Linked DNA regions of Homo sapiens. The protein of the gene in region 2 interacts with the protein of the main gene of each other region in a pairwise test. Each region holds a gene or a part of one and is shown on either strand. Other genes may lie near its edges. The genes, in order: PLEKHA2, FHL5, BANP and TXN2.

Region 1 (6,855 bases), on a different chromosome or scaffold from region 2:
CCACAGGGCCAAAGCCCCCAAGCCTTTTGCCCACACTGGGCAATATCAGGAGCCCCTGCCCCAGCAGGGCTGGGACCTCCACAGTGAGAAAGCCCAATTCCGGCTTTAATGCATAACAAATCACTTCAGTCAACTGGGGTCAGGGCAGGGAAGGGGCTTTCAGAAGGAACAGTAGGGTCTCACTACACCAACCCCCGGCCTCCTCTACTGACAGGATGGGGCCGCATCCCTCCCACCTCTCAGCTGCCCTATCTCCCCCGCCTGTCCAATACCCCATCTCAATAATGGGCTCATATCAGGCAGGGCCAGGGTTCTTCTCTTCCCATAGGCCAACACACTATAATATTTGCTTTCCTTCCTTCCTTTCCAAAGCCTACCAGATTAGATTGCTGGAGTCCCATCCAGCTCACTGAGACAGATGGAAAACGGAAAGTAAGGCAACCCAAACTGTTCATGGTGGAAAAAGAGAGGGGGCAGAGCAACCCAACGTCCCAGCACCCAGATCCTCTTTTCCAAGCCCTAGGTCTATCACAACCGGAATAAGTCGAGCCACAGCAGTTTCCGTGAATCAGAAGAGATATTCTGATGCACTGTGGTCTGCAGCAAGCTCTCATCTGAGTCATCCAGCCTTTCAGCAGGGGCATCACCCACCTGTCCATCTGTCCCATGAATTGGACAGGAGACCAACGCTGCTTGGGTCTTCCTAGTATCCTAGCACTTCGGCAAACACTTGGCAAGGTAGTGGGAGGGCTGCTCTGGGGCTCAGCTGATAGGGCTCATCAGCCTTCCCCTTCCCACTTCTGCAGAACAAAAACCTGCACCAACCAAAACCTGCATGTCTTCAAGATTTATTTTAACCACTCAAAAATACCGAGCTGAATATGGTTCAGCTCACTACCATGACATGATGGGATCTGCAGGCCCTATTTCCTTAACACAGAAGAGAGAAGAAAGCACCAATGACAAGGAAAAAGAAAGGGTTGCAAAAACTCTTCACCAAAGGGCAGGCAGTTTCTCAATCAATACCAAGGTAATTACCAATCTGTGAAATGAGCAAGGCTCCCATTACCAGCTAGCTAAAACCCCACTAGGAGTGCCATAGACAATTTGTAGAAAGCATGCTGTAATGTACAAACAGGGTCAAAGGATACTTAGGTGTAAAGGCAACATCCGGACTAATAACTCCCATGTACCAGCTTGGAGAACCAAATCCCTACAGGTTTGAGGAACAACCACACTGCTCTTTTCTCTGCCATTTGGACAAGTGCAAACAATTCATGTGTTTGCATTCATTCATTAATGCAATAAACATTTACTTAGCACCTGGTACATGTCATACGTTGGGCTGGCCATAATCTAGACTACAAGCTAGACCTCTGATAGTGCAAAAGTCATCTGCCTTCAGGCGGCACATGGTGAAGAGGGCTAATGTCTGAGATGATGATGATGCTTTCTAAAAGCTTACTCTGGCTTCTCAAAACAAGTGGGGGGCTTACAAGTCCTGTAAGCTCGCCAAAGACAGGGTCCAGCCCTCCAGAGGTAAAGGAAAAAGAAAAAATAAAGACAGGGGTTGTGTTTTGTTCATCACTGCCTTGCATGTATAATACATGTCAACTGAATGCAACTGAAATAGAAAGCAAAAACTTCTATTCTTTCAAGATCTTTTGCTTTGCTGTTTCGGAAGGCTTCGCAACCAAAGAAAAAAAATGACAAAAGAAGGGAAAATGGGACTTGGTCAGATAGATTAAGAACACCATTAGTGCAATCTTGGGACTTCAGCCCCAAGTGCATCTACAGCTCAGCCTTCAGAGCCCCCAGAGCCACAGCTGGCTTTCTGGTGGGGTGCTCTCCCCTCCCTCTTCTCTGCCGTTTACTGTCCTCTGAAAACCCCACTTGGAGCCCTAAAGAAAGAAAGGGGGCGGGCAGGAAGAAGGAATGAGAAGGGGAAGATACATCCTGAACCTGCGTTCACCAAGAAGGAAGGAAGCCAAACCCTAAGGCTAGGGCCTGGGGGCAGGGCTGGCCCCGGGGAGGAGATGTGAGGGTGCTCCGGCCGCAGCGGGCCCTGCGCCCCTCTCTGGGCGTGCAGGGACACTTTTCCCTTCTAAACGGCCTAGCTTCCCACCACCCCCCCCCACACCCTTCTTTTCTCTTTCTTTTTAAAAAAATTTTGGTGAAATCGTCTTTAGGACTGGAGGAGAAAAGGGAAGCGTGTAAGGTGAGGAAGAAGTTGGTGAGAGAGAGAACGACAGCTCCCCTCGAGGGCTCACCCAACCTGGCACCGAACCTGCATTTTAGGGCAGTCCTTTTCACTGTCTGGAGTTCCAGAAGCCCGAAGTCCAGGCTGCACCCAGAGGAAAGGACAGGAGTCCCTAGGGGAGCCTTCTAGGCCTGTCATTTAATAAGGTAGTCGGGGGAGTGAAAGAGGAGTCTCCATGGCCCAATCCGTACCCAAGGGACTTGCCTGGGGACGTTCTCTGCTCTCCTCCCCTCCCGCAGCCCGGGCAGTCGTTGCGGGGTCGGTGCCCCAGCGCCAGAACCCGCAGAGAAGTTTCGCTGCTGCAAACGTGAGAAAATGCAGCTCAGCAGAACTCCCGCCCCCACCCTCTCCGCGGCCCCACCCCCCGCAGCCCGACCCCTGGCGGCGGCGACCTTGGCCACCCGGGGCACTTGGAGGAGGGGCTGCCCTCGGGGCTCTCCCAGAGGGTTGGAGGAGGCCTCCAGGGTCTGCGGCCACCTCCCCTCGCCTGTCAGCCACTAGGACCGGCGTATTCAGCCCTGCGCGCGCGCCCCTCGCGCCCCTAGGCCGCCAGGCCTCCGCCGGGGCGCCCCCTGCACCCCCAGCCCCGCCAGCCCCCGCGCGCCCCTCTGCGCCTCTCCACTCCCGAGCCCGCGAGGGCGCCCAACTTACCCCCCCGTGCAGGGGCCGGGGCTCGGGCGGGGCGCGTTACATCGGGCGGGGTCGCCCCTCCGGCCGCCGGGTCCGCCGCGCTCCAGGGATTTCTGGGTCTGCCTGCCAAACTCTCCGCGCCTCTCGCTCCCCTCGCTCTGGTCTCCCCCAGTGCCCCCTCCTTCTCTCCCGTCCCTCGGCTCTTTTTTCCGGGTTAATTACGTTTCGCATTAAAGCAAAACCCAGCCCCGGATGTGAGTACAATGCTCCGCGGAGCCCGCCGGGGAGGGAGAGGGGTGCCGGGGCGCCGCGGGCTGGGAGGGGGTGCGGCCGGGCGCCGGGGCCGCGCGGGGGAGGCGGGGGCGGGGCGCCCGGAGGCTGCGCCCGAGGCCGCCCGCGTTCCGCGCCTGGCAGGTGGGACCTGCGCGCCGAGACTGCCCCGCGGGGAGGCCCGGCCCCGACGCTCGCTCGGGCAGCAGGTGTCCGGGCAGGGGGCGTCCTCGCAGGAGGAGGCGAGCTGGAGCGCGAGCTCCCTCAAGAACCCCATTTCCTCCTCCCAGAGCCCCACCCAGCGACCTCAGCTGGGCCTCCTTCGGATCCCGAGCCCTTAGCCTTTGGGGACCGAGGAGTTGGGGTAAGGGTTAGGGTCCCAAGAAGAGTGGCTTCTTCAGGTTGTCCTAAATGTGCCCTAAGAGACCAGTGGGCGGGAACGCTCTAACCAGGGTTATAAGGACTTTAATTTCTTTATTTTATTTTATTTTTTAATCAAGACAGGGTCTGGCTCTGTCGCCCAGGCTGGAGTGCGGTGGCGCAGTCATAGCTCACTGCAGCCTCGACCTCCTGGGTCCAGCGATCCTTCTGCCCCAGCCTCCCGAGTAGCTGGGACCACAGGCGCCTACACCGTGCCCGTTGGGACTTTTTCGGTGTGATGCGAAGACTCCCTTCCTGCCCCCAGAGCATGAGGGTGCTCTGGGAAAAAATGGGAAACAGACAAGCATGTGTTACTACGTAAACCTCGCCAAGAGGAACTAAGAGAGCTGCTGTGCGCGGGTCCCGCCCCTGCGCTATCTCATTTGATCCACGCCGCAACCTATGGGTACCAGTCCGGTTCACGGTGAGGAAACCGAGACTCAGACTTGTGAAGTAATTTGCCCTGGGTACCCAGTTAGTAAACGGCAGGTCTGTCAGGTTCTGACTCCGGCCTCCCACGTCGGGAGAGAGACATTTGAATATGCATCAAGTCAGGTGGACAACATCCGAAACATGAAAATGTAGAAGATTCGCGCGGGCCTGCGGGGCCGTGCGCCGGTGTCTGGCGATCCTAATGCAAACGTTGTTAATCAGGTGTAAATCCTACGAGGCTTTGAAAGAGGCAGGCATAAGAAGACGCTGAGGTTCTCCAGGACAAGGACTGGATTTGCAGGAAGGAGGGAGAGGCTGGGGCACATTCCCGGTGTTAACAGAGGAAAGGCGGCCTCTTATGTCTCCACGACCGACCGGAGGCCACAAGGCCTGGGGAGGGGGGCTCGGGCCGATGAGCCAGGACCGAGGGAGAAGGACAGCCCGCCCCACACACCCCGAAAGCACCAGTGATGAAACCACACAAGTTTCCTCTTCCATTTTGATTGCCAAAGCAAAAATGAACACCGCCGGTGTCTCAGGTGTGAAAAAAGACTGTTTGCTTTAGAGCATTTTGCTTTCAATGAGGAAGAAAAGGGGGACGATGGGCAAAACACACACACACACACACACACACACACACACACACACACACACACACATTTCCCTTGAAATAAATACATCAATGTCTTTTTTTTCCCCGTTCATGGAGGGTTTTGCCACTCATCTGTAAGTTTCAGGCACCAGAACAAACTGAAGAGCATCTCCTCTGGAAGCAAGGAACCTGGATTTGAAGCCCAGCTCTGCCGTTTACTGGCTTTGACCCCTGGGCAAGTTACTTAACTTCTCAATGCCTCTGTTAGGAAAAGTCAGTGAGTTAACATTTGTGAAGTGTTGAGATTCCTGTCGAACGTGAAGTAGGTGCTACGTAAATGTTTTTTAAATTTAAAAATTAGATGATCATTTTCAGTATGAAAAGCAACACAATTCCATCCAGCTCCAAGCAAATCCGACTGGAACTGAGGGTTTCCAGCATGAGCAATGAGGTAAATTTCTCAGATTTCAGGGTATGGTTCATATTAAACTCATAAAACTCTACTCCCCGTGGGGCTGCCTGAGTCACTCCATCACAGAGCCACAAGTATTTCCTGAGCACTACTGTTTTGGATGCTGGGAGGCAAAGAGAAGCAGAAGGCCTTGGGTGGCAAGAGAATACAGGTGTCTCTAGAAGGCTGAAGCAGGCTTGTGCCCTGGGAATGGCACAGAGAGTAAGTGCTGTCAACTTTTAGAAGGACAAGATATAGCCAGGGGCAGTGGCTCACGACCTGTAATCCCAGCACTTTGGAAAACCAAGGCAGGAGGATCCCTTGAGTCCAGGAGTTCAAGACCAGCCTGGACAACTAGGGAAACTTCATCTCTACAAAAAATAAAAAATATTAAATTAGCCAGGTATGCACCTGTGGTCCCAGCTACTCTAAAGGTTGAAATGGGAGGGTCACTTGAACCCAGGATTTTGAGGCTGCAGTGAGCCATTATCATGCCACTGCATTCCAACCTGAGTGACAGAGTGAGAACCTGTCTCAGAAAAAAAATAAATAAAAAAGAGGGAAATGTGTCTCTGAATGGGGGATGGGGGGTGGGGGGGGACGGTGGGGGAGCTCAAGAAGGGAGTGGGCTTTGAAATGGGACTTAGATGGATACAGTTTGACACCAGTGGGAGGAGGCCAGGAACATGTTGGGCTGAGGGAAGGTCATCATCAGTGCACTCGGGGAGATGCTCATACTTCACTGGAGCCCCATTTACTGCTACACTTGTCCCTGGCCAGGACCTGGCCCCAGTTAGATGACAAATCCTGCACTAATGTCCACTCTCTTATTCCTGGATCTCCCAGGGCTTCCTCAGAGGGACCCCCACCCCCACCCTCCTCTCATGTCACCTTGAAGCAGGCGTCAAGTGAGTCTGTGCCCTGCTATGTTTTGCCATCCCTTTCTCTCTTTTTGGGGGGACACTTTTTTATTGTGATAAAGTATACATGACATAAATTTTACCATTTTAAAGTGTATATGTAGTGGCATTCGGTAAATTCACAATGTTGTACAACTCTCACCACTGTCTAGTTCCAACCGATTTTCATGGCTTCTAAAGTTGACGCCATACCTATTAAGCAGTCACCTCCCATTCTTCTCTTCTCCCAGCCCCTGGTCACCACTAACTTGCTTTCCATCCAGTCTACAGATTTGCCTATTTTTGATACTTCATATAAGTGGAATCATATATATGTGGCCTTCTGTGTCTAGCTGCTGTTGCTGCTTTTTTTTTTTTTTTTTTTTTTGAGACAGAGTCTCACTCTATTGCCCAAGCTAGAGTGCAGCAGCATGATCTTGGCTCACTGCAACCTCCGCCTCCCAGGTTCAAGCGATTCTCCTGCCTCAGCCTCCCGAGTAGCTAGGATTACAGGCCTGCGCCACCACACCCGGCTAATTTTTGTATTTTTAGTAGAGACAGAGTCTCACCACGTTGGCCAGGCTGGTATCGAACTCCTGACCTCAAGTGATCCATCCGCCTCCGCCTCCCAAAGTGCTGGGATTACAGGCGTGAGCCACCGCACCTGGCTGTGTCTAGCTTCTTATGTTTACTTTTGCCATCACTTCATTGACACATTTTGAAAGTACAGTATTGCTGTTGCCTAATTTTATACTTTAATTTTGTTCAGTGCAATAAACAGCCCTGATGTCTGAGAATGTGACTGTACCTGTGGGGAAAGGAATGTCAAAAAAGGACGTTTCATGTGAGCTATTTCAGCCCCCTTGTTGTACCAAGGTAAAATAAAGCTCAACAATTTGCT
Region 2 (7,545 bases):
AATCTGGGTGTTTGTTTTAAGGAGCAGGAAAGACAGGATTACATTGATGGTGAAATGGAGGAAAGGGAGAACATGGTGAATTTATGGACTTGGCCTAATTTACTCGATCGTGTATGACAGCTAAATACTAGGAAGGCACATATCAACTTTAAAGGTATGTTTTACTTTCAAAGAAATAACAAGTCAATAATTACAGTTAAATATAGTGTCTTGGTAAAAGTACACAGAGGGTGTTGTGACAAGAAATGAAATTTAGACTGTGTTGCACAATGGGGAGGCTGGAAATAACACCTGAACCAAGAGTCCAGAGAGAAAAAAAGAAGGATTAGCCTTGGTGAAAATGAGAGAAGGGAAGGAGAGCATATTAAGGCAGAGAAAAGGAGGTACAGAAGTACTATGACGCTAATTAGAATGAAATAATGAGATGTGGGGAGCCAAGAAGTCTGAGAAATATAATAACTGATCTGGGGAAGTAGTGTAAGATAAAGTAGAGAGAATAGGGGGGTTTTGAAATGCCTTAAACACTAAGCTACAAAGTTCAACCACTATCTCAAAAACATGGAAGCCTTTAAAAGATTCAACTAACCAGGGAAATTAAGTAATTACATTTGTCTTCTAAAAAAATTACATTCTGGAAAGCAATTTGGCAATTTACCAAAATTCTTTAAAATGTACATATTATTCGTGAAATTAATGTCTTCCTTTTCTGAGAATTAAAATGACTAAAAAATGTATACGAGTCTTTTTTCCCAGCCTCTAGTAGAGAGGAACATGGACACCTTCTCTTGCACAGAAACAGGCCAATCTTGGCTCTGAAATAGTCTATTCAGATACTAGTCTGCCAAAGAAAAACTGCGATCTGACTAGTCAACCTAAGACAAAAGTCTCAAAGGTTGTCTCATGTTTTGTGTTACTCAATGTAAAGAAGTAAAAGTGCTTTGTCAAACTGTTTTACTACTGAGCCTGTCTTTACTCATCTAAAATGCAGTCCTTAACCTAATTCTATCATACAGACTTCAGAGTTGGGTAAGAACTTGAAGACTTGACACATAGAACATATTGTTGTTTAAATACAACCTAATAAATGTAAATGTACTTAAAGTCAATGTTCTAGATTTTTCTCCTTTCCTCTTTTCAGTCTTAATCTCAGTCCTGTGATTTGTATGTTTTAAATGCTGAGTGTATCTTTTGGTGTTGAAAAAAGAGAGAAAAAAAAGGAGAGCTATTCCATTATGTATTTTATTACATAGCAACTATTTGTTATAGCCACTTTAAAAATATTTTATTGGCTTGTCCATCAGTGAATGACTGGATAAAGAAAATGTGGCACATCTACACCATGGAATACTATGCAGCCATAAAAAAGGATGAGTTTGTGTCCTTTGCAGGGACATGGATGAAGCTGGAAACCATCATTCTCAGCAAAGTAACACAAGAAGAGAAAACCAAACACCACATGTTCTTACTGATAAATGGGAGTTGAACAATGAGAACACATGGACACAGGGAGGGGAACACCACGCACCGGGGCCTGTTGTAGGGTGAGGGGCTGGGGGAGGGATAGTATTAGGAGAAATATCTAATGTAAATGATGAGTTGATGGGTGCAGCAAACCAACATGGCACATGTATACATATGTAACAAACCTGTATGTTGTGCACATGTACCCCAGAACTTAAAGTATAATAATAAAATAAAAAATATTTTATTGGCTTGGAAAATTACAGTATATTAAGTGAAAACAAGGATACAGATTTATAATGGGGTTCAGGATGCACTACGCTAAAATATGGCACCTTGGTGTTTGAGAAAACTCCAGAAGCAGGAAGATCATTCCCACCTTCCCTTTACCCTTCTCTCCCGAGGCAGGTCATAAGACCCTCATTCAAGAGACCTCCCTATGCCTGGAAGAAAGGAACACAAAGAAGAGTCTAAACAAACAGGCCTTGCTAAGTTCCCCCGAGTGTATAATCATTAGACTATATCCCCTTTGTCCAGTCATACTTTTCCATGACTATCCACTCTTCATCAAATCTAAGCATAAAAATACACACGTTTATCTCTTGCTTTGAGTCTTCATTTCTGAAAGGCTCCCATGTCCCATAAAAACTTACATTAAATAATTTGTATACTTTTATTAATTTGCCTTTTTTTATAGGGGCCTCAACCATAAACCTAGTAATGGAAAAGAAAAATATCTCGCACTTTCTACAAGTATATACAATGTGGTCTTGGTTTTCTAACTAAATATACTGCATAACTATGTTATGCAATATATTTACAAAAAATTTTAGCATTTCTCTGTATCATTAATATATGAATGATACAAAGCCTAAAGAGGTACACAAAGATTTGGTCTGGGCTGTCTTGGATTGCAAATCATTTTACATTTTACATTTTCTGTATATGTTTTCCAGTTTCTGTTCCAGATTATCTGCAAGAAGCATGTATTTTATAATTTAACAAACTTATTTAAAAATAATATTTTTCTATAGAGAAGGATAGAAAGGGATCAGGCTGAGGCAGATGCCAGTTATTTTATGGCTGACAGAATAATCTGAGTGAGACATGTGAGACATGGAATGCAGGGGTGAGGACAAATTTGAGAAAGATCATTTAACAAACTAGAACCTACAGAAGGTGGACAATGATGGGGATGGTGGAGGATAAATGAGGAAAGGGAATACTCTAACATAAGGGGTGGATGATTGTGCCATTCCCTGAAGTAGGAAATACAGCAAACTAACAAGTTTGGAATGGGGAGAAGACAATAAGGATATTTGGGACTGTTGAGTTTGAGATGGCTGGGGACCCCTAGACAAGGTTTTCTAATAGATAGCGGGATACAGGTCTGGAACCTTGAAGAGTGGTATCAGATGAAAGTACACATTTGGGAGTCATGTTGTATAAAATTGTTCATTGTTTTGATGAAGAACGTGATGGAAAGTCTGCAGAGAAGCATACTGAACAGAAGATAAAGCTCTAGGGAAGAGTGAGGTGAATAGAGAGAAAGTGAGGGTGCTAAGAGCAAACAGAAAATCAGAAGGGTGTAACATAGCAAAACCAAGGGAAGATAATTTCAGAAAGAAATAGACATGGCCAGAGATGAGAATTTTTCGGTAAGACTGAAGACCATACTCTTTGGGTTGCTAATCAAGGTTGTATATGATCTTAATGAAGCTTTTTTGGAGCGGTTCAAGTGAAAGACAGATTGCAATAAGTTGGGAGGGAGAAGAAGGCTCAGAATGTAGTAGGTTTGGAATGACTTGGTGGATGTAGATTACCCTCTCAGGAAGCATGGGAGCAAATAAAGAGGGTGATGGTCCCAGGCACTTTTACATCTCAAGGACTGCTTTCCTTGCCCATAAAACAAGGAAAATACAGGCAGTACCTGTTTAGCAATGGTGTCCTAAGGATTAAAATCTATTACTAATGAAATATACTTGTGTCCTTTTGCTGAATCCAAATTTATTGTTGTTAGTCGCCATATGTTCATTTTCATAATGTCTTAATCATTAAAGTCAAGTGAATAACAAAACATACAGTTAACTGGCTCTGCATTTCTCTAGCTCAAGTTCTTTGACTGTATATACCCGAGTTTGACCTTAGAAGATATTAACATTTCATTCCTTTAGCAGTTAGAACAAGGACAGTTTAAGTTTGGTCTGGGATTAAGGCAGAATTTCTTCTCTCATCCTGCCTTCCAAACTGAAGAAATGGCCTCAAATGGAGATTCTAAGAGAAAATGTCACTTGCCTTATGAATCAGTGTGCCCCACTGAGGATACCTATTATGGATTGGTTTAATATCCAAAAATTTCTTCAGATCCAACTCTTGACATCTCTGTCCACTTTTTGTGTTTTGAAGATTTCAAAAGACTCAATGAGTTTATGCTTTATGAAGTCATAGAGCCATGGATGTGATGTCACAATTGTGGCCAGCTCACCAGGAAGCAGGCAGAGCGGGGAAGGCTGAGTCCACACTGCAAGTCCAGAGAGCAGGGAACTACCTTGAGTATTCTACTCAAACTTATGTCTCAGAGTTCCCCAATTTCCCAAGAAGGGAGAGATAGAGGCCACAATCCAGGGGGCCATCTCTTAAGGTACCAATAATTTTGCAGGTAAGAGCATGGGACCTCATCCCTTTCCAGATGGCCTCAAAAGGAGATTCTAAGAGACAATGTCCAAAAGAAAAGCTCAGCGGTTCAGACATTTCTAACCTAAAAGAAGGGTTCTGATCACCACCAGAAAACAAAGAAAACAAAGCCAAAAACAGATTGAGGAAACAGAAAATACATCATCCTTTTAGAGTATTATTTTTATAAATATGCCCTTAATTTAGCCTAGTTAGTGGAAATTTCTCAAGTGTGTATGCGTCTGTGTGAACATTGTGTATTTTAAACTTTTTGGAGCTTAGCCAGATACTTCGAATGCTAATCCTGGCAGAATTTCCCTTTAAGGATGTCCTGCAGAGAATTTGTTACTCATAGTTTTAAGTAAAAATTGACAAATAGTGCTTTTTCAGCCCAGTAGGAGTCATGTACACGGTATAAGACTTGGAGGAAATGCAGGGACCCTTCTGTTTTCTCCTGCAAAGTTGAAAAAGCTGCATGCAGTTGGAAGGGATCTTCAGATGGTGCTGGTGACTTTCTGTTCCTTTTGGAGTTGACATGCATGTGGATTGGAGGAAAAATAATCAACATATATTCTCCTTTCGTACTGTTTAAATCACAGGAAGAAGCGGCTTTAAGACAAAGTGAGTTCTTTCCCCCAAATATTTCCTTTGTTTTGTTTTGTGGTATTTTGACTTCTCTAATTTTTTTTTAAGGATGAGAAATTTTTATAAACTTTCCAGTAACTACTTAAGAGAAAACTTTTGCTTGGCAAAAGTGTATGCCTTTTGAAGTTTCTTAGCCATTTTAGCTAAAGGTTATCAAATTTTATATGCTGAGCTTTTCAGATTTCTCATTCTTATAACTTGCATGTGGAGGTAACATAGGGGCCAGATAACTCCTTGGAATTGCCTCTTGAGTTTTTCTAATGGTCTTAATGTGGGGTATAGCTTTATTGTTGTAAAAAGAGGAAGAAGAGGAGGGCTCTTGAGATTTTATTTGGCTTAATTTATTTGAATGAATAACATTATCACTGAGCATATTTTATGACTAGATTTATATTTCAAGAGCACATTTTGAAGTCACTTACAGGTTTTAAGTAAAAGGAGTTAATGAGATTCCTGCTATTTTCAAGAAAAATCTGCCTACTTTCCAGAAGTGGGCATACAAAAATTCATAATCTTTAATTTTCTAAGGTTAAATTAAAATATCTGTGTTTCCAGCCCACAGAAATATATAATAGACTATATCAATCTAAAGTGCTACTTCTTGAAACAGAGGTAGTGTTATTCAGGCAAAAAGCATACATCCCATATGTGTTAATGCTTTCTCTCTCACTATTTTAGTCATATCCTCTTTGGTACCTATCATTCATTTGAAAACCAAATGCAGCTCCTCAGCTGTCATTTCAGACTTTAGAAAATTGGAAACTAAAAAGAATTATTAACAAAATGCATAGCTCTCATACATAAAATGTAAGGAAATCCTTGAGCCATTTTAGCCCTCATTTTATATCCACAATACCATCATGTGTAAATACTAGCATTTTTATTAGCAAAGCATATGGATTAAAATTTAACATAGGTATTGCAAACATATGTATCATACAAGATATTTCTTAACATATGTGTTATGATATATGCTTTAAGCCATAATCCAAATTGCTTTAAGGGGAAGGTAAACTCTAGTGTCTGTTTTCTACACTTGTTCTATTTATTCTCACATTATTATTAGTTGCCAAATCTGGGACTGTTCTACCTAAGCAAGAGTAGTAGATTTGTGTTTTAATATAACACCACCTCACTGACAAATTTACCTCTTATTTTTATTACACTTACCAACATTTTGAGTAAAGCTGAATTAATCTGTGTTTCTTACATAAGACTGGGTACTTTTCTACTATAATATTACAAATAAGAGTTTAGAAAATTTAGAGATTTAGAGAATATTTAGAGACAGATATTTAATTTGTCTGTTTTTATTTTTTCAATCGAGGGAACATGATCTCTTTAGAAATGAAAGCTGAATACTTGGGTTCGCATGGGAAGCTCTGAATCAGATATTAGTTAAACCAGCTTGCATTTCCTTGTTCTTGTAATTATCTTTTTCCTCTCCAATTACCATAATTTTTCTTGGTTACTTTTTGGTACCCTGAAAGCTCATTGAAGGAGAGGAAGAGAAGAAAGAGGTAGAGGAAGAGGAGGAGAAGGAGGACTCCTTTTTGCCCAACATGCCTCAAATCCCTGCAAAATAATCAGCTTGAGGCCAGGCACGGTGGCTCACTTCTGTAATCCTAGCTTTGGGAGGCCAAGGTCGTGGGGATCACTTGAGCCCAGGGTTCAAGACCAGCTGGGGCAATATAGGGAGACTCTATTTAAAATAAAAATAAATAATCAGCTTATTGATGACATACCCTAGTATTTTATATGAACTAGTAAAACATTCTTATGGGTTTGGGTTTACCTTATCCTCACCATATGTCTAAACTTTCACATGGGCTAATTACCCTGATTAGAACATACTAGGATATGTCAACAGCAAGGTTTACATTCATTAAATAAATAAAGCTAGAGAGTCTCTTTGAAAACAATAGTGTGATGTGGAGAACAGAGTCAAGGTTTTGAAGTGTCATTCATACTGAGTTTTCTATGAATGAGGGCAAGTGAGTTTGCCTCCCTACCTTAAAGATATAATTAAAACAGCTGTGTTATAGAATTTTATATTAGAATAATAATAACAGTAGTCATTTTTATTTTTTGTCTTCTCAAATTCTTCGGTTATACTTCCAGCACCAATGGACCTTAAATTTATCTCACTTGATTTTTAGCAAAGCTTTGAGCGATTCCTTTGCATATTCATTTTGCCAAAGGAATACTCACCAAATGGATCCTGAGTAGATTATTTTGATATATTCAGGTTGTCTCCTCCCATTTAAAAATATACCTTTTTGTATTTTTCCAATATCATTGCAATTATAATGCTCTAAAGATGGTGGTGTGGAAGTGGAGTGGAGAAATATGCTTCTTGGGCTTGTTCTCCAGCTTGATTTTGTTTAACTATCTCTTACAATTATTCATAAAACAATTTAAGTAACATGTCATAAGTCACATGACTTCTAAGATTTTTTTCTTCTTAAATTTTTTCTTTTTTGCTTTTATTAGTATTACTATAGACATGTAACTGTACATATCCATCAGGTACAATGTGATATTTGTATACATGTATATGACAAATTATCAAATCAGGGTAAATAGCATATTTATTACCTTATTTTTCATTTCTTTGTGTTGGGAACATTTACAATCCACTCTTCTAGCTATTTGAAAATATACAATAAATTGCTAATTATAGTTACCCTATAGTGCTATAGAACACTCAAACTTATTCCTCCTATCTAGCTGTATTTTGTATTTCTTAACCTACCTTTGGCTATC
Region 3 (7,031 bases), on a different chromosome or scaffold from region 2:
TATTGTCAGGTGATAATCACGTTGTGTTTCTAGTGCTAGTTCTTTCTCTCCCCAGCCTTCCACAACAAAGCGGACCTTAGATATCCCTTGTGACCAGAAAGTGCTAAGGCTTAAAAACGCATGATTGAAAACTGTGGGTGAGTCTGTACTTTGAGATGAAGCTGTGTTAGCTGCCGCCTGTCTGAACACACTCGTGCTTCCTCCAGGGTGGCGCCAGGCTTGCTGGTTTCTGGGCCATGGTCTGTTCTTTTGTAGAATCTTTTCCTTCAAAGCAGAACCCTGAGCCCTTTGGTTGTAGCTCACACATGTTCCTGCAGGACCTGGAGGCAGCATGTGTGTCCTTCCATCCCAAGTCCAACGTGATGTTTGCCCCTTTCTTTCCAGGGCGCTACCGTTTTGGAATGATACCAACACTTACGTGGTTACGAACGTTAGATCTGTCCCATAGGAATGAGTTGGGATGGAGTGACTGAAAATGTCAAGCCAGTTCTCATGCAAGTGTGCCACCCTAGAAGCTTTATTAACTGGGTGCGATAACAGCTGGTGCGGTTGCAGTCTATTCTGTCACAAGTTCAGCATCCTCAGCCCAGCTGTCCTGTGCTATCCAGTTGTGCAGACAGATCACCAACAATTAGGAAAAGTTACGTTCTGCTAAAAACCCCATCTCCAGTTTATTCTTCCTTAGCATTTGGGGCTCCTTCCCCCTCAGGACGGGTCCCTGGGAGTGGACTATGTTGAATGACTCTTAGGCCTCCCCCTCAGTGCGGGTCCCTGGGAGTGGACTGTGTTGAATGACTCTTATGTGCTCTTACCATGAATGTTGTTGTTTTAAGGCCTTCTTTTTCTTTGTGATTCTTTTGTTCCCTAGCGTCGTCCCCCAGACTACAGTAATACTCAACAATGATCGGCAGAACGCCATTGTAGCCAAGATGGAAGACCCCTTGAGCAACAGGGCACCGGATTCCCTGGAAAATGTCATTAGCAAGTCAGTAGCACGGCACCAACCCCACCTTTCCCTGCCACTGTGCGGAGTCCCATGAGAATAAGTCAACGTCCCTAAGCCAGGGCACAGTCCAGCACACGCTTCATCTCTGTGGTCACAGGGTTGAGCCTGGCAGGCACCGCCCCAGCTCTCTGAGGTCGGGGAGGGCAGGCTGGGCGATGCTGAATGCTGAGTCCAGCCACACCAGGGGCAGCTGCCGCCGGGGACTTCTGTGTCTCGTGCTGGCCGGGGTTGTGGAGGGGGCTGGCTCTGTCTCCTCACAGCAGTCTGTGAAAGCGTTCATCCTCCCACCTAGCTCAGTGGTCCTCACGTCTGTCTGTGCAGAGCGTGTCAGGCAAACAGACGCCCTCTCCCACGGTTGCTAAGTGGTGCAGGCATGTTGAGTTTATGACTTTTTTCTTATACCTTTTTCTCTTGAGACATTTTGAATGGAACTTTGGTCAGAGGTGGGAGTGGACAGAAGACACCGTCCCCGCTCTGTGTGAGGGGAAGGCTGTGCAGTGGCCTCTGGCTGGCATCCAAGCCCTGCTGTCCCCAGGAGTGCCCCTGGGGCTGCGTGAACCCCTGAGGATGCTGTTGCTTTTTCTTTCCCATCTGTGTCTTCACAAAGTTCTATTTGCTTTTTCTCTCAGTCTCCTTTGTGGATTCCTCCTCCTCCAGCTTCGTCCCCTTTCTGTATTGTCTTAGCTCAGTTCTCCAGGGCCGCAGCTGTGGTCGCAAGGGTCTGATACGTGGGGTGAAGGGAGAGGAGTTGGTGATGGGCGGTGAGGAGGTGCCAGGGTCAGCTGTGCCTCAGGGGCTTTGCACTGAGGTCAGCCAGGCAGATGGCCAGTGTTGAGATCAGGTTCAGCGTGGACAGCGCTCTAGAGAATCCAGGCCAGAAAGTGCAGAGTGCAGCGCCCTCCTCTGGGTGCGGCCAGTGTTTTCAACACCCTTTTTTTTGACTTTGCATATAGAGAAATTGTGCTCCTTTCTCCTGCTGGTGCGTAGCAGTCCACGGTAGAGGATGTTGAAAGGGTCACTAAAAAAGGGAAGTAGTAAGTCTCTAAATCATCCTTTTTTTTGAGCACTTGTGGAGGTGGCCTCGCCCTGCTTTGCTAGCAGTGTTCTGTCCTTCCACATCAGCAGCCCTTGGGATGATGGCAGCTCCGATGGGATCTCAGTGGGTTTTTTAAGCCCCGTCAGGGTTTTTTGCCCGTGGGCGTACGTGGGAGTGCTGCTCGCATTGCGAGGGGGAGCCATCTCCAGCGAGCCCAGCAGCGTGGATCGAATTGACCCAGGCCTCTGGGCACAGTTTTCCTCATTTAGTCTTCCCTTTAACCTCGCCGGAAAAAAGACTCTTACCAGCATTTTATGGGATGACTACTGAACTCAGAAGGCAGCATGCTAGGCCTGAGTCCCAGTGAGTATGATTTTACTCCTTTTGTGATACAAACATTTTCTTTAAATGGTTAAGTTTTATTTTATACAGTTTCTTTCAGCCCCAGGCCATTTTCTCCCATGGAGTTTCTATTAATCTTGGTAGAGAGAGCAGTATGGGAAGGCTGTGTGATCCACTGGTCCACACAGAGTTAGATTTTGCGATAAGGAAAGCGCTGACCTTCGCGTGCTGCTTGCGGCTCTTACCACATCGGGCTGGTGTGTTTTTTTTCCCGTTTAGCGCTGTGCCTGGGCGTCGGCAGAACACCATTGTGGTGAAGGTGCCGGGCCAAGAAGACAGCCACCACGAGGACGGGGAGAGCGGCTCGGAGGCCAGCGACTCTGTGTCCAGCTGTGGGCAGGCGGGCAGTCAGAGCATCGGGAGCAACGTCACGCTCATCACCCTGAACTCGGAAGGTGCGTCCAGGGCGGCTTTCCTCGGCCAGAGCGCCAGTACAATTGTTTGTTTGTTTTGCCTTTTAGAAATTTTGTTGTTTTTTAAAGAAGTGATACAGTGGCCAGGCGCGGTGGCTCACGCCTGTAATCCCAGCACTTTGGGAGGCTGAGGCGGGCGGATCACCTGAAGTCGGGAGTTCGAGACCAGCCTGGCCAACATGGAGAAACCCTGTCTCTACTGAAAATACAAAATTAGCCGGGTGTGGTGGCAGGTGCCTGTAATCCCAGCTACTCGGGAGGCTGAGGCAGGAGAATCGCTTGAGCCTGGGAGGTGGAGGTTGCGGTGAACCGAGATCATGCCATTGCATCCAGCCTGGGCAATAGAGGAAACTCCATCTCAAAAAAAAAAAAAAAGTGATACAGTATAGGACAGGCTCAGTGGCTCACACCTGTAATTCCAGCACTTTGGGAGGCTGAGGCGGGTGGATCATGAGGTCAGGAGTTCAAGACCAGCCTGGCCAAAATGGTGAAACCCCATCTCTACTAAAACTACAAAAATTAGTTGGGCACGGTGACAGGTGCCTGTAATCCCAGCTACTTGGGAGGCTGAGGCGGGAGAATTGCTTGAACCTGGGTGGCAGAGGTTGCAGTGAGCTGAGATCGCACCACTGTACTCTAGCCTGGGCGTCAGAGACTCTGTCTCAAAAAAAAAAAAAAAAAAAAAAAGATAGTGATACAGTATAAACATGAAGATTAAAGGGAAAATAACTGTGATCCCACCATTCTGAGATCTCTAAACCTTTTGGGGTTTTTTGGTGCACATTTTATGATTTTATAACTCACTTCTTTCCCCTACACAGTAGAAATCTTTCCACGTTAGTGCAGATGGACAGAGTCATTTTTAGCCAGTTTTGCTTATTTCATCAGGTCTGGATGCTTTCCAGGGATGGCCCCCTCTAACCTTTCGTTATTGAAACTAGCATTGGCCTGCTGTGTTTTCATGTCTCTTGGATCAGTGTCTGGACGTGGGCTCTCAGAGGCAGGTTGCTGGGCTAGAGGACGCAGCTTCCACGGGTTCCATGGCACAGGATGCATTGCCCATTTCCCCCGAGATCTGGAAGGATGTGAAGCTGTTTGTCCTACTTGGACTCCTAGCGGGGGCCTCTCTCCTGCAGGGCTCTGAGGTGCCCTCCCGCCTGGCCCTCGGCCTGCCCAGTGTGCCTTTCAGAGCCGTCTTCCCCTGAGAGCCTCTGTGTGCCCTTCATCCTGTCACCGTAAGTGACCAGATGACTGTCAGTGACTACAGCGTGGAGAAAAGAAAGAACCAAACAGACTTAGCTTTGTGCGTGGAGTTGTAAAGCATGTGTTTTCCTTGCTTACTAGGAAGAACTCAGTTTTTCTGCATCTGCGTCTGAGTTGTTGATTTTTCCTAGCAACTCGATGTTGCTTTGTCTAGTGAACAAAGGCTTTCCTGTTAGGAAGACTCATTACCGTATCTGAAACATTGAAAACAATGTCTTCCACAAAAATTGCTTTTACCTCTAATACAAATTGCTAGGATTCAGATGGCAGAATGGAGGGAAGAGAGAAAGAGACGTTGAGTTGATCTTTTTTTTTTTTCCAAGTTGAGATCTAATTTATATACCATAAAATTGACTGTTTTAAAGCATACGTCTCAGTTGTTTTTAGTATATTCTCAAGGTTGTACAGTCATCACTTCGGACTAATTCTAGAATATTTTTTATTACCCCCAGAAGAAGCCCTGTGCCCATCAACAGTCACTTTCCATTCTCCCAGCCTCCAGCCCCGGCACCCAGCTCATCTCCGTCCTCGTGGATGTGCCTGTTGTGGACCTTGACTCTAAATGGAATCCTGTGGCATCACCCACATTGTAGCTTTTGCCCAGTGCTTTGTTCCTTTTCATGGCTGCGTGATGTGCCGAGGTATGGATGGCCCTCATTCTGTTGATCCATCATCAGTTGATGGGCATCTGGGTGGTTTGCACTTTTTGGCTGTTGTCAGGAATGCTGCTGTGAACGTTGAGGTGCAGGTTTTTGTGTATGTATTAATTGCAGGATCAGGGCAATGGAGTTTTTCACACATGAAATTTGAGGAAAGGAGGGATGCTCCTGATTTCATTTTCATAGAAATTGAAAATCACATTGCAGTAACGACAGACTAATTGTTGTAATTATTTTTGGATGTGGATTTTGTATAAATCCCCACATAGATCTGGCCACCCCCTTCAGGCCTGATGTTTGTTTGATTGAAACTGTGTTAGCTAAGGCAAAAAAACTTGGTAATTCTGGGGAGTCCAGGGTCATAAAAACAAAAAAATCTAAATGAACTTATGAGACGATATCAAATTTGGAGCTTACTTAGTATTGATCTGTATCTATAAGGAAAAATACAAATTTTCTTTGTGTCTGAGTTTAAGTTTTTTTGATGTTTTGTGTAAGACATTTTTCTTTAGCTAGGCTTTGAGCAGAGTTTTATAGCCATCTTTACCACTGATTGTTCTCATCAAACATAATTTTGCTGTACAACACAGGTTGTTAGGATTGGGGTGAACTGCAGAACTTTTTCTCATCTTAAATTTGACTTTATTTTGAAGGAGAGGTCATCATCCAGAGCCATTCTGTTTTCTCATCCCATTAGGAGGAAACATTTTTTGTAATAAATCTGTTTCACTGACTGTCCTTGGGAATGTATATCCCAGTGGGGTCGGTGTTATGAAAATATCTGCTTGAGCTGCCTTATTTGGCATAGTGGCTTGGTGAAAATGAGGAAGTCACCTTTAAATGATTGCTGTGTATGTAAATGTTGGGAAAATAGCCAATCCATTAATGTCTCTTATGTCAGATTTAATCTCAGCCCGTAGTGGCGTCCTCTCTTCAGCACTTCCATGGGGGGTGCGAATGTGCCGAGAATGGGGCCAGCATCTTCCTGCCTGTGGCCCTCTGTCCCAGAGCACCTGGGCAGGTGGTGAATCAGCGAGTTTCTACGAGGGAAAGCATTAGGAATATGGGAAGTGCTAAAGGGGGTGTGCTTGTCTTTCTATTTAGTTGTTTTAGGCCCTGATAAGAAATAGGAGCCGCAGGAGACAGATTGTTCTTAGCTTCTTATTTAAGTATTTAAGTGCCTTAAGTCTTAGAGAACCACAGATTTCAAAACGGTTATTTCTTAAGAATTCCAAATGGCTTGTGTGAATTGACATGCTGTTTTGTATCAAATTTGGAGTCAGTTTATTGTACTGCAAAGATACCATATCATTTTATTCTAGTTTTTTTCACTTAGGTAATTCCGTTTGTCATTACACACGCTCCACTGGAATAAGAAGGATGGTAACTCTCAGCTATTGAAAGCAGGGAACAGTAGACTGTGTCTCATTGGAATAAGAAGGACGGTAGCTCCTGACTGTTGAAAGCATGGAACAGTAGACTGTGTCTCATTAGAATAAGAAGGACGGTAACGCTCAGCTATTGAAAGCAGGGAACAGTAGATTATGTCTCATTAGAATAAGAAGGACGCTAACTCTCAGCTATTGAAAGCAGGGAACAGTAGACTATGTCTCATTAGAATAAGAAGGACAGTAGCTCCTGACTGTTGAAAGCAGTGAACAGTAGACTGTGTCTCATTAGAATAAGAGGGACTGTAGCTCCTGACTGTTGAAAGCATGGAACAGTAGACTGTGTCTCATTGGAATAAGAAGGACTGTAGCTCCTGACTGTTGAAAGCAGGGAACAGTAGACTATGTCTCATTGGAATAAGGACGGTAGTTCCTGACTGTTGAAAGCAGGGAACAGTAGACTGTGTCTTCATTCTTGTGCTTGCCTTTTGTCAGTAGTTTTGGTCTTGGTGTGCTCATAGCTTTGTTTTGTACTTGAAAGTGTGTGGGGCCTCATCATTCAATGACTAAGCTGCCAGCTGAGTTAGAGAAACAAGTTGAGCTAAAATGGACCTAGCATGGGATCTGTTTGTCCATTAAGGGATTTAGTTAGGTTCTTAATCAAGAGTTTAAATTTCTGCTGTGTATGCATTTGATAATTCTTACAAAACGTGACTGATCCTATACATAAAATGTTAGGTACTTCATTTCAGTGGGGGAAGGATTGTGGTTGAATTCTAATTGAATTATTGCCAGGAATTGGTCCCATGGACTTCCCAGGCAGTAGAATGACTTACGTGGTAGCTCTTGGTGATGCCAGTGAAG
Region 4 (5,126 bases), on a different chromosome or scaffold from region 2:
TCAGTATTCTCATCGTTAAAATGATCCTGCCCACAGCCAGGAGAGTGTGAGATAGTGTATAGAGGTGTTTATATCATTCCTGACACGAAAAAGCACCCAGCATGTGACAGCGATCTTTTCCTTTTAACTCTGCAATGAGCCGAGGAGGAGGTTGCAACATCCCGCAGCACCCAGCACTGTGCCTTTCCCTTGGTAGGCCCTTAGCTGAGTTAACAGATGGATGCCATCGGGGTGGGACAGGAGAAGACATACCAGGACACGGAGCTCAGTGGCGGTGCAGGCGAGCTACGGGTTAGCAGAAAGAGACTGCGCACACGTACACACTCCCCCACTCCTGCCGAGTTCAGAGGGTCTTTATCCAAGGATAGGAGGTTCCAAGTGGCTTCACGGAACAGGACAGGCAACACGTCGTAGCGTATCTTTTCCTCAGCCCCTCAGTTGGCTCAGTCACTGCCTCTTTCACACTCAAAACATTCCAGAAGAATGTGCCAAGGCCCTGTGCACTTCCATGTAAGGCAGTGTTTACAGGCACCGGCACCTCCTGATGTGTGAGCCAGACACAGGAGCAGCAGAGCTTCAGCCGCCTCCTCAGGGTCGAGGGAAGTCCCATTCCAGCTCAGGTTTCCTGTGAGCCCCTAGTGCGGGTAGTGTGTATGTGTGTGTGTGTATATATGTGTGTATGCGTGTGTGTGTTTAAGCTCAACTTCAAAATATCCCCTTGATCAGTAGTGACCAGACCTCCATTGACAGCACATCTGCTGTCTACCTGACACCAGCAGGGTCTGTGCGTGTTCAAGCATGTGTGGAGGTTTACATGAGTGAGATCATTATGGCCTTCATCTGGAGTTCTTTTTTTTTTTTTTTAATATTTTTATGGAGACGACGTCTTGCTATGTTGCCCAGGCTGGTCATGAATTCCTGACCTCAAGCAGTCCTCCTGCCTTGGCCTCCCAAAGTACTTGGGATTACAGGTGTGAGCCACTGTGCTTGTGCCTATCTGGAGTTCTTAAGGAACGCTAAGTCCACTCTCTGAGCCTCTTCAGTGAACTTAGAGTCTTGCCGTGAAAAAAGTTAGGCCACTTCTTATACAGTGGCATAAAGCATATATTTTAATTAAAGGAATAGGACAGTGTGCAGGTGGGAGCCGGTGGCTGAGCTCTCTGCTTCTGCCAAGAGGCTCCGGCTTTGAGGCACTCCAGCTGCCTTTGCAGACCACTAGAGGGCACCAAAGAATGCCTGGGAAGGCCCTGGTGGCTTCAGGCGCTTCCTGGAGCAAACTCTTTCGGGCCCTGCTCTGCCTGGAGACAGGGTTTGCCACCCACATCAGCCCAGGGACAGCCTTTGAAGGGGCCTGAGGCACTAACAAGGACAAGGACTGTGTCCTGTGACCTGCTGTGTTTGTCCCCAAAGTGTCCGTGAGGAGTGGGGTGCAGGGCCTGCCACGTAAAGTTAGTGGGTGAGGGCGGGATGGTCTGGCCTGCGTGCCTTTCCTAACTACCATGTGCATGGTTTTTGAACATTCTGAATCTTACTGGCTTCCAAGATGGGCCGTGGCAGGGCAGCACTGGGATATGTGAAGACCTGGTATGTTTGTGTGAATCTCTGCTCTTACTTTGTAGTTTAATTTGTATGTAAGAAAAGTCTGTGTTTATCTTGTTCTGTTTATTTTTATTTATTTATTTTGAGGGGGGGAACAGAGTCTTGCTCTGTCGCCCAGGCTGGAATGCAATGGCACAATCTCAGCTCAGTGCAACCTCTGCCTCCCGGGTTCAAGCGATTCTCCTGCCTCAGCCTCCCGAGTAGCTGGGACTATAGGCATGCCCCACCACGCCCGGCTAATTTTTGTATTTTTAGTAGAGACGGGGTTTCACCATGTTGGTCAGGCTGGTCTCGAACTCCTGACCTCAAGTGATCTGCCCGCTTTGGCTTCCCAAAATGCTAGGATTACAGGCGTGAGCCACAGCGACCGGCCTATCTTGTTCTGTTTAAATGGTTTTCTCAAATGCCCACGAATGCCAGGCAGGGATCCCAGGCAGCAGAGACCTCACAATGCCAGTCTGGTGGGCCACAGCCTCATCCACGTTCCACATAACCTATGCAGGTCCCTGAGGGAACTGAGTAAATGCTTCACAGACCAAGAATGTTGTCCTTGCCATCTGCCTGCAACCTGCTAATAAGCGTCAGGTTGTGTATGGCCAAGCCTCTCCTCTCATGCTGTCCAGTAGAAGTCCCTGAGTTTCTGGACCCTGTCACTCATCACAGCAGCAAGCTAATGTGCTCTCGTGGGGCCTGTGTTGGACTTTTCCTTGTGCCCTCTGTAGCCACTGTTTTTTGAATGCCCACAGTATGCCAGGCACAATGCCAGGTTCCTAAGCTTATTTGCCGGGCGCTGTGCTGAGCCTTTACTTGCGTTATTTCATTCAGCTTTCATGCCCTCTAATGGCAGTGCCCTTAGTATCTCCATCCTGCATCTGAGAACACTGAGGCTTAGTGACTGAGGGGCGTGCCCCAGCTCACCTGGCTGGTAGGAGCCGGATTGCGTCCGCCAGAACCTGAGCTCTGCTTTATTTATGTATTTATTTATTTATTTATTTATTTATTTATGAGATGGAGTCTCACTCTGTCACCCAGGCTGGAGTGCAGTGGTGCAATCTCCACTGACTCCAGCCTCCACCTCCCAGGTTCAAGCAATTCTCTCACCTCAGCCTCCCAAGTAGGTGGGATTACAGGTGCCTGCCACCATGCCCGACTAATTTTTGTATTTTCAGTAGAGACAGGGTTTCACCATGTTGGCCAGGCTGGTCTCGAACTCCTGACCTCAAATGATCTGCCCACCTCAGCCTCCCAAAATGCTGGGATTACAGGTGTGAGCCACCGCGCCCAGCCTGAGCTCTGCTTTATACTCAAATCTTTCTCTTTTTTTTTGAGGCAGGGTCTCTGTCACCCAGGCTGGAGTGCAGTGGCACAATCACAGCTCACTGAAGCCTCAGTCTCCCAGGCTCAAGCGATCCTCCTGCCTCAGCCTCCCGAGTATGGGAGTACAGGCATGTACCACCATGCCTGGCTAATATTTTGGGGGGGTTTAGTAAACAAAGGGTCTCACTATATTGCCCAAGCTGGTCTGGAACTCTTGAACTCAAGCAATCCTCCAGCCTCAGTCTCCCAGAAGGCTGGGATTATAGATATAAGCCACTGTGCCCAGCCTATACTTGAATCTTTAATGTTCATCCCAAACCCTAAAGGTAGACATTACCCCCATTTTATGGAAAAGGACACTGAGGCTCAGAAAGGTGCTGTGACCCGGCCAAGGCCCCCTTGCTAGTGAGTGCAAAGCCAGGACTCGAACTGTCCCCCAGCTTCTGTCTCCTCCTGGGCCAGGCTTCCCCTGAGCTCCTCCCTGCCCCCAGCCCTGGCCTGCAGCTGCAAGGGTTATTTTCATCTCTCCTGTCATTCCAGCAAAACCACTGGGCCAGTGAGTCAGTCTTGTGGTTAAGGGAGGAAGGGTACTGTTGGGAGCCCGCAATGGAAGACGTTTCTTCAGCGGGTGGCCCCCGGGCCCTGCAGTACCCCTGCACCGAGAGAAGAGCCATGTTCCTCTAGGCCTGCCCATGGCTTTGGGAAGTCAGTGCCCTGGATAAGCCACCAGCCTTCCCCACAAAGGCTCAGGAGTGGCAGTTGAGAAGTATTCACTCCCAATTCACTTGGACCCCCTTGTCCTCTCCACCCAGGTGTCAGCGGTGCCCACTGTGCTGGCCATGAAGAATGGGGACGTGGTGGACAAGTTTGTGGGCATCAAGGATGAGGATCAGTTGGAGGCCTTCCTGAAGAAGCTGATTGGCTGACAAGCAGGGATGAGTCCTGGTTCCCTTGCCCGCGTGGGACCCCAATAGAACTCAGCCCTTCCATGCCAGCCCTTCCTGCTGCCTCCCTCCTGTCTGGCTCCTGGGGCCCATGCTTAGAGCCCAGGCTCCAGCCCTGAGTGCTTCCGAGCTGGCGGACTGCCCAGGGGCCATCAGAGGATGGTGGTGCTGCTGCTGATCCGGGGACCGCTGTCTTCCCTCCCATACGCCTTTCATCCCTCCTTCTAGGGCCTATGGCAGTTCTCCCAGGATGTGTGGCGAGAGCCTGGGCCAGCCCACAGCGTTCCTAGTCAGGCAGCCACACCTTGGTCCTCATCTTGGTCCCTTCCAATCTGAAACCTCGTGCCTGGCTCGTCTGCCACCTACATTTCTCTTTCCAGCTGCTGTTTTGTAAAAAGAAAAAGAAAAAAGAAGCCCAAACTAGTGAGAGTAATATCTAATTATCTCATTTTTTGTAGGTCTGTGATAAAGAACTTAGTCATCCCTTCCACCTCCTACTGTGAAGAACAGACCCTGGGTCCCACACTGAAATCCCCTCTAGTCACCCATTCCCACCCCCCAGGGAGCTGCCTCCCAGGCAGGGGGTGCAGAAAATGATTGATGGGCTGGGGAACCCTGGAGAGCCTCGACTCCGGAAGTCTCAAGGTGCCTCCTCCTCTCCTTAGCTGGCCCGTTGGTTTTCTGAGCAGGGGGCTGAACTGTGAACAAGTCAGACAAATAAAGCAAGGGTCTGCACCATCTGCAATGTCACATCTGTGTGGGCTCAGAGCACTTGTCACCCTTTCCCAGGGGGCTTGTCCACTGTCCCCACATCCTCCCCTAACTCCACAACACTCTCTCCAACCAGCCCTTCCTGTTCACTAACATGCTTGTCAGCAGTGGCTGCTATTCTAAGGATGCCATGTGCCAGTCCTCGTGCCCTCCTAAGGCAAGAGGCTGTTGTCCCCATTACCCCGATGTAGACACTGTGGCTCATGGGATGCAGAGCTGGGGTTTCTATCCAGACGTGGTTGCCTCTGAAACCTGGGCTCCCACAGCTGATCCCCTTGACCCTTCTGAGGCCTCCCCAACTGACAGGGCTCCTGGCTGCCCCAGCAGGTGCCTGGCCCTGTGGGGATCAGGCTATCCTTCCCATGGGTGCCTGCAGGAACTTCTGGGCCTTGGGACCAGACAACCCCTCTTGGCCCCCAGCTCCCCTTGGCCATAGAGGAGTGTGCCAAGGGAGCCAGGCTTGCCAGTCAAGAAAGCCTTCCTTCCGTCTGCCTT

Evidence for each region.
Region 1: the proteins of FHL5 (region 2) and PLEKHA2 interact in binary tests that used the Homo sapiens proteins (3 or more experiments, as listed by UniProt).
Region 3: the proteins of FHL5 (region 2) and BANP interact in binary tests that used the Homo sapiens proteins (3 or more experiments, as listed by UniProt).
Region 4: the proteins of FHL5 (region 2) and TXN2 interact in binary tests that used the Homo sapiens proteins (3 or more experiments, as listed by UniProt).

What each region holds. Positions count from the first base shown.
Region 1 is NC_000008.11:38,897,502-38,904,356, reverse strand, and holds the start of PLEKHA2 (pleckstrin homology domain-containing family A member 2), read right to left. Parts: upstream 3,012-6,855; 5' UTR 2,912-3,011; intron 2,594-2,911; exon of another isoform or gene 2,288-2,593; intron 1-2,287. UniProt on the Homo sapiens protein: Binds specifically to phosphatidylinositol 3,4-diphosphate (PtdIns3,4P2), but not to other phosphoinositides. May recruit other proteins to the plasma membrane.
Region 2 is NC_000006.12:96,558,601-96,566,145, forward strand, and holds the start of FHL5 (four and a half LIM domains protein 5), read left to right. Parts: upstream 1-4,527; 5' UTR 4,528-4,755; intron 4,756-7,545. UniProt on the Homo sapiens protein: May be involved in the regulation of spermatogenesis. Stimulates CREM transcriptional activity in a phosphorylation-independent manner.
Region 3 is NC_000016.10:88,003,427-88,010,457, forward strand, and holds part of BANP (protein BANP), read left to right. Parts: intron 1-868; coding exon 869-985; intron 986-2,663; coding exon 2,664-2,839; intron 2,840-7,031. UniProt on the Homo sapiens protein: Controls V(D)J recombination during T-cell development by repressing T-cell receptor (TCR) beta enhancer function. Binds to scaffold/matrix attachment region beta (S/MARbeta), an ATC-rich DNA sequence located upstream of the TCR beta enhancer.
Region 4 is NC_000022.11:36,466,520-36,471,645, reverse strand, and holds the end of TXN2 (thioredoxin, mitochondrial precursor), read left to right. Parts: intron 1-3,728; coding exon 3,729-3,842; 3' UTR 3,843-4,600; downstream 4,601-5,126.